2 separate regions of the Homo sapiens genome follow, and region 2 is linked to region 1. The links come from fine-mapping of genetic effects on gene expression. Tissue or cell type: aorta. Region 1 holds a variant in brackets; the other region holds the start of a gene. All regions are shown on one strand. Distances are from middle to middle.

Region 1 (2,937 bases):
CTGGCTTAACACTCTTGGTGTGGTACCTTGATGCCCGGATCAGTTGATATTTTCTTCAATTTCTTCACTTGATAAGCTAATTTTTATGATATCTTGCTTTTGCTCTCATATAGTGAACTAGGAGAATAAGTGGTCTGATTTGAGATTTAAAATTGAATACTCTACATTTGTTGGTATCATTTGGCTTGCAGCATTGTTTTCACTTGGCAGCCCTACTCTTATCTAATTAGTTCACAGCAAGCATTTTCCATTAAATCTTAGACTCTTTCACATGAAGGAACATAAATAATTTTGCATTTGACTTTAGGAAATTGGTGCAGGACTTTACTTATCTTTACTAAATTCTAACTTGTTTGGGACTGTATGACTTAGAATTCTAGAAACCATTGTCCTTCCCTGTAGCCACTGGTTTTGACAGGCAAATGTAATTATTATACTTTGCAACTTTATCTTCTTCAAAAATTTAATGTGCTCGGATATTTCAACTTATGACATGCAAAATAAAAAGAGACCATTTAATCTGAAGACTTTCAGCTGTATTAGTTTTTAATTTGCAGAGATAGTGGTCTTCCAAATGTTAATTAAAATTTTACCCTATGTCTACTATCGTTAATTGCAATTCTGGAAATATTACAGTAAGTAATTCGGGAAGATTTCACTGAGGAAGTGATGCTAAAATTTAAATCTAAAAGATAAATACATTTAATTAGACTAGGGAGGAGGCAAAGAGAACAGGCAGGGCAAGTTAATGATTTTGATTTTATATTAATTACAATGGAAAATCTAAAAATTTTAAAGCAAAGAATGGCAAAATCAGGTCAATATTTGATCTAAATATTTGAAACTACTATTCTGGCTGCCTTGGTTAGAATTAAATGAAGAGAGAAAGTGAATTTACTGAGGCTAGATAGAACAAGACTGCTGGTGATGGCAGTAGTGATCAGGAAATGGAATAGATTAGAAGGGTTTCAAAAGGTTAAGTTCACAGGTTATAAGGAAAGAGTGACAGAGAAGAAAAATGAGAGAAATGTATCACAGATTACTCTTAAATTTCTGGCCAATGTGATTGGATTTCTGGTAGTGTCATTTGTAAAGATGGGTCACTCTGGAAGAAAACCAGCTTGGGTTAGGAGGAGGTAGATAATATGAATTTGTTTTGAACATGTTCATTTTGAAATATTTTTGAGATGATGTGTTTCAAGAGCCATAAAAAGATATAGACCCTTTGACCAAGAAATCCCAAGACTCTGGGAATGTAGCCTGAGAAAATAGTACAAACT[A/G]TGGGAAAAGTTATAGTCAAAAATGTCCATTGCAGTGTTTTTTAATTGAAAAAATGAAAGCAATGTTAATGGTCGAAAATAGAGAATTGATAATAACAACTTTTGTACACCTACTAAATGAAAAATTATTTAGCTGCTCAAATGATTGTTTAAAAACTGTTCAGTAACATATAAAGTGCTAATGATAAAATGCTGTTATAAAAATAGTTAAAATATTTTAAATACTATAATTAAAACTGTAGAAACAATATGAAATAAAACTAGAAAAATGTTAGAAATTGCTTAATAGGGTATTAAAATTATAGGTATATATATCTTCTTTGTTTAAAATTAGTAGAAGAAGGAAGTTGGAGGAAGAAGGAGGGGTAGGAAGAGGAATAAGAGAAGAGGAGGAGGAGGAGGAAAAAGAAGAACAAGAAGAAGGAGAAGGAGAAGAAGAAACAAGAAAGAGAAGGAGGAGGAGGAGGAAAAAGAAGAACAAGAAGAAGGAGAAGGAGAAGAAGAAAGAAGAAAGAGAAGGAGCAGCAGTGGCGGTGGCAGCCACAGGAGCAAAAGGAGCAGAAGATGACTACAATGCGATGAAGATACAATGAAACATAGCTACTTACTCTTGTCACGCTGAATTCTATGATTATATATATGCTGATGATCAAAGTTATGAAAATCATGTGAAGGGATAAAATAATGCATGCATGACTTAGAATTTAACTTTCTATAAATTTAAAATTGGTTGTTGATTGCTTTGTTCAAAAAATTGGAGCTGACTCTTCCTCCTCAAAATGGAGTGAATTACAAGTAAAATTGAAAGTACAATTAAACCTTTTTAATGATGACCCGCCAAACGAGGAAAAACCCTAAACAAAGTGTATTTAGATTATATTTTTGATGATATATGTTAAATGCCTTTGCTATTATTTGCACAAAATTCCGGTTTCTAAAATGGACACTTATTCTGTTATTAAAATTGTCCAAAAGCTAAACACACAATTAAGAAGGCCTATACTATTTAACAGTTCCCAAAGCAAATACAGTTAGGTTTATATATTAGTTTGGACTCCCTTCTTATTATATGTCTTCACTTTTATATGCCTACTAATTTTGTAAAATTCAGGTTAAGATATTTCATCAGTCTCCTCTACATATTTTACAAAGCTAAGATCAACTTATTTCAACTTATTTTAAACATTATAAATCATCTATATTGGTATATTTTGTCAGACATGATGTAAATATGCACATGATGGGGCATTCACCCAAGACATCTAGTAATTTTCTTAAAATATTTTAAATTTACTTACTTGAAATAAAAGAATATGCCAAGCGAGATAAGCAGTGATGCAATAGACAATCCGTGTCCAATTATGGTCAGGTAAAACAAATTTAGTGCAGTCTGTAATTTGTATAAACAAAAAAATTTGGTTCATATCAATACTATAAGTATCTGTAATCCCACACATGCAGAAGTTCAAATTCAGTTGAATAAACTATATTTTTAGAAATATGTGATCTGATAGCCTTACAATGATGAGTTTACAAACCAATAAATACTTGAACGTGTCTGGAATGAAAAATATCTATCCAGTGAAATTATCAAAATTTATAAGTTGTATGCCTTTTTATTTTTTTAATAATTTTTTAAAAAATTAGAAGTCAAATA
Region 2 (2,937 bases), 71 kb after region 1:
TTAGGTAAGAAAATATATAACTTAAAAATCATATCTATCAACATCATTTAAAATTTGACATCAAACTTTCTCCAGCAACAAATTTGTGATATATCTACACAAACAATTTATTAAGCAGACATTAGTTTCTTAAATTGTTCAGGACAGTCTGTACTATCGGAATGAGCATTAACAGATGTTTTATCCAACATTTCAGTAAGTTCCATCCTGGAAATTCTTTTTTAATAAATACTTTAATTTCTTTGTTTAATCGTCTAATATACTTCTTTGGGAAAGCTGTCACGTTTCTTTATCCACAGATATCGTGGTATCACACCCCCCTCCAAAAGCTTGCAGAGGGGAACCAGTCAAGTTGAAGTATTCTCTTAAAGATTTCAAAATTAAGAATTGTTTTAAAAATCTACATTTCCTAAACTCTAGGTTTTTTTTTTTCTTTGTAGCCGACACCATGATCCAAATAAAGAGCAAACAGTTCAGGGTTAGCAGAAGAGAGATTTAAACACATCTGGCAACAATGAACACAAAAATTAGTTCAGTAGTTACAGATATATGTGTAAATAAAGGTGAAAGGCAAATAAAAGCAAATGTAATAAATACAAAGTGATTACTTTTCAAAACTCTGCATTATGATCAACCACAGAGTAAGTGAGACTCCGAGACCCATTAAGTAGTTATTCTTTCACCTCTTTCTTACAGCTGATAACATGGAAAGTTTAAAGACCCTTCCGGGGGGAGAAATGTTTTCCAGTTGTCAAGATTCAAGCTTAGCTAATATTAGAGCTAATTTTAAAAGACATTGTTCTGTGATTAAGGTATTTGTTCAGAAATATGTCTTTTAATCCATTTAGATTTTTAATACTTGCTAAATTTATTTTCTAGAATACCATGGTAAACAATATTATCTAGTAGTATTAGATTTTGTATTCATGTTGGGGTAGTAGGCTGTATTTTCTCTAGCATGTGAAATAAGTGAGACTATGTTTCAACATTATTTCAGTGCTATCTACTAAATTCTATAATAGAAACATTGCCAAACTATATGAGAATACTACTTAGAATAAATATATTTATTTTGAATGTGCACTTACCCAGTCCAGCTCTTAAGGAAATTCTTTGTGAAATATTCTCAGGATGGAACTTTACTTTCTGAGATTCCGCAGAAGAGATTTACCCACAAGCAAGGTGGGAAAGAGTGAAAGCTTTGCAATGTGATCCTGCAATTAGGATGAGATTCAGTTAGCAGAGCTTGATGGTCCTAAAGCAGGAGGTGACACTCTCTGCTGGAGAGAGAGAGGTTGTTCTGAGTAGATTGTAAGTGTTGTCAGATTGTAAGTGATCAGCAGCAGAAGGGAAACATCAGAGCTTCCTGTTACATCACTCTGACCCCGCCTGCAGTTAGTGTTAGGTTACTTTCTTTCTCAAATAGCATACCCCAGGAAAGCAGCACTCCTTTCTTATTGTGAGACAAGAGCAAGAAGCAGCCTGAACAGAGAGAGATCATAGGCTGTGTGAATACATTGTTACCAGTAAAAAGCTGGCTGGCTTTCACCTTGACTGAGTTCTGTTAGAACTTGCCAAACAAGCTACTTGTGATTTGAAGGAAATCTGAATATAGTATTCTGCTCAAAGAATCAAAGGAGTTAGGCGTGTGTGTGTGTGTGTGTGTGTGTGTGTGTGTGTGTGTGTTGAATTATAGCTTACAAAGTATCCAGGAAAAAAAATCTAACAAATCTGTGTTCATAGCACAACACAGAAAAAAAAATTAACTGTATTCATCATAACTGGTTTTGTGATTTGGCTCTTCTTAATTTGGAGCTCTGCTAATTGGGTGCTGTTCCTCCATCAGTTCCTAAGTGCAGTTCCTAATCAGTTAATTAGATCAAGAAACTTTATCCTGCAGTTTTTAAATCTTTTATTTTTTCCTTTACCTTCTTCATAAGAACATGAGTGTATGTGTTATAAATTCAGGTTGTGTATGTGTGTGTATAGAGTGTTTCTTTTATAATATATAAGTATATATATTTGACAAAATAGCCTTTTGAATAATTCATAATTTTAAAATTATTGCACACATTTAAAAATATTTGGTATAATTATGTTATTTATAATATAAAATAATTTATACCACAATATTTGTAAGTCAATATAATCTTAAAGAAAATATAGATGTTGTAAACATAATATTATAAAATAATATAAATACAAAGGATACTTTATTTCTTAGACAAAATTTCATCTCAAAGCATAGTTTTTCCTGAATATGTTTAATACATCATTGGATATGATCAGGGGAAAATGTAAATTTAAAATGCTTTTATCATTTTTATAATTTGGTAAATGTTCGATATGAAGCAATAATTATAATCCCTATAACCTAAACAGCACTAAAAGTCACTTAATTTATCAGGGCATAAATTTTCTCATCTATAAACTAGAAGAGATAGATTTTATGTCTAAGGCTTTGAATCGACAAATTTCATAACATTTTGAAATAGATAAGATACGGTGAGGATCATTCAACTCTTAGTAAATTGTTAGTGCAATTCCAGGATAAAATGAGGTGCCATACACCTTGTAGGCAGACAAAGGAGGTAAAGGCAAAATAAATTCAGGAATATCATGTTTTTAAAGCAGGGTGCTCATGTTGACATTTTTATTGTCTGAATTAGTGGAAGAAAATGTTTATACAATCTTTGATTTTAAGACCAGTGAGATCAATATTGATTACAAAATACAGACATATAAAAAATAGATATACTTTCATCTCTATAATTATGGTTAATAGAAAAGACTTGTAAGAAACTGAGTTACACTGGTGAACCGGTTCTGATACTGTCTGGTGTGATCTTGACAAAGCTTTTTAGGCTTCATGTTCCCATCTTGAAATTCAGAGAAAAACAAATACTAGATTTAATATGAAAGTAATAATGGGTCATG

Direction of the effects. Positions count from the first base shown, and alleles are read on the strand shown. Sizes are in standard deviations (SD) of each study's normalised expression.
In carriers of allele A in region 1, the expression in aorta of the gene that starts at base 1,302 in region 2 tends to be lower than with G alone (moderate effect, 0.66 SD a copy in GTEx).

Evidence for each region. PIP is the estimated chance that this variant, and not a neighbour inherited with it, causes the effect.
Region 2: CALCRL starts here. The variant in region 1 is fine-mapped to the expression of CALCRL in aorta (GTEx, PIP above 0.99).

Annotation. Positions count from the first base shown.
Region 1 is chr2:187,376,362-187,379,298 of GRCh38, forward strand. It overlaps CALCRL (calcitonin receptor like receptor), which reads right to left. Exons shown (of 15, transcript NM_005795.6): 8 at 2,579-2,670. All of the region lies in intron 2 of CALCRL-AS1 (CALCRL and TFPI antisense RNA 1), which reads left to right. Among named protein-coding and RNA genes, the nearest start is that of CALCRL, 70 kb to the right of the region's middle. The variant A/G (reference allele first, on the strand shown) is at 1,281.
Region 2 is chr2:187,446,951-187,449,887 of GRCh38, forward strand. CALCRL (calcitonin receptor like receptor) reads right to left here and starts at 1,302. Exons shown (of 15, transcript NM_005795.6): 1 at 1,089-1,302. All of the region lies in intron 2 of CALCRL-AS1 (CALCRL and TFPI antisense RNA 1), which reads left to right.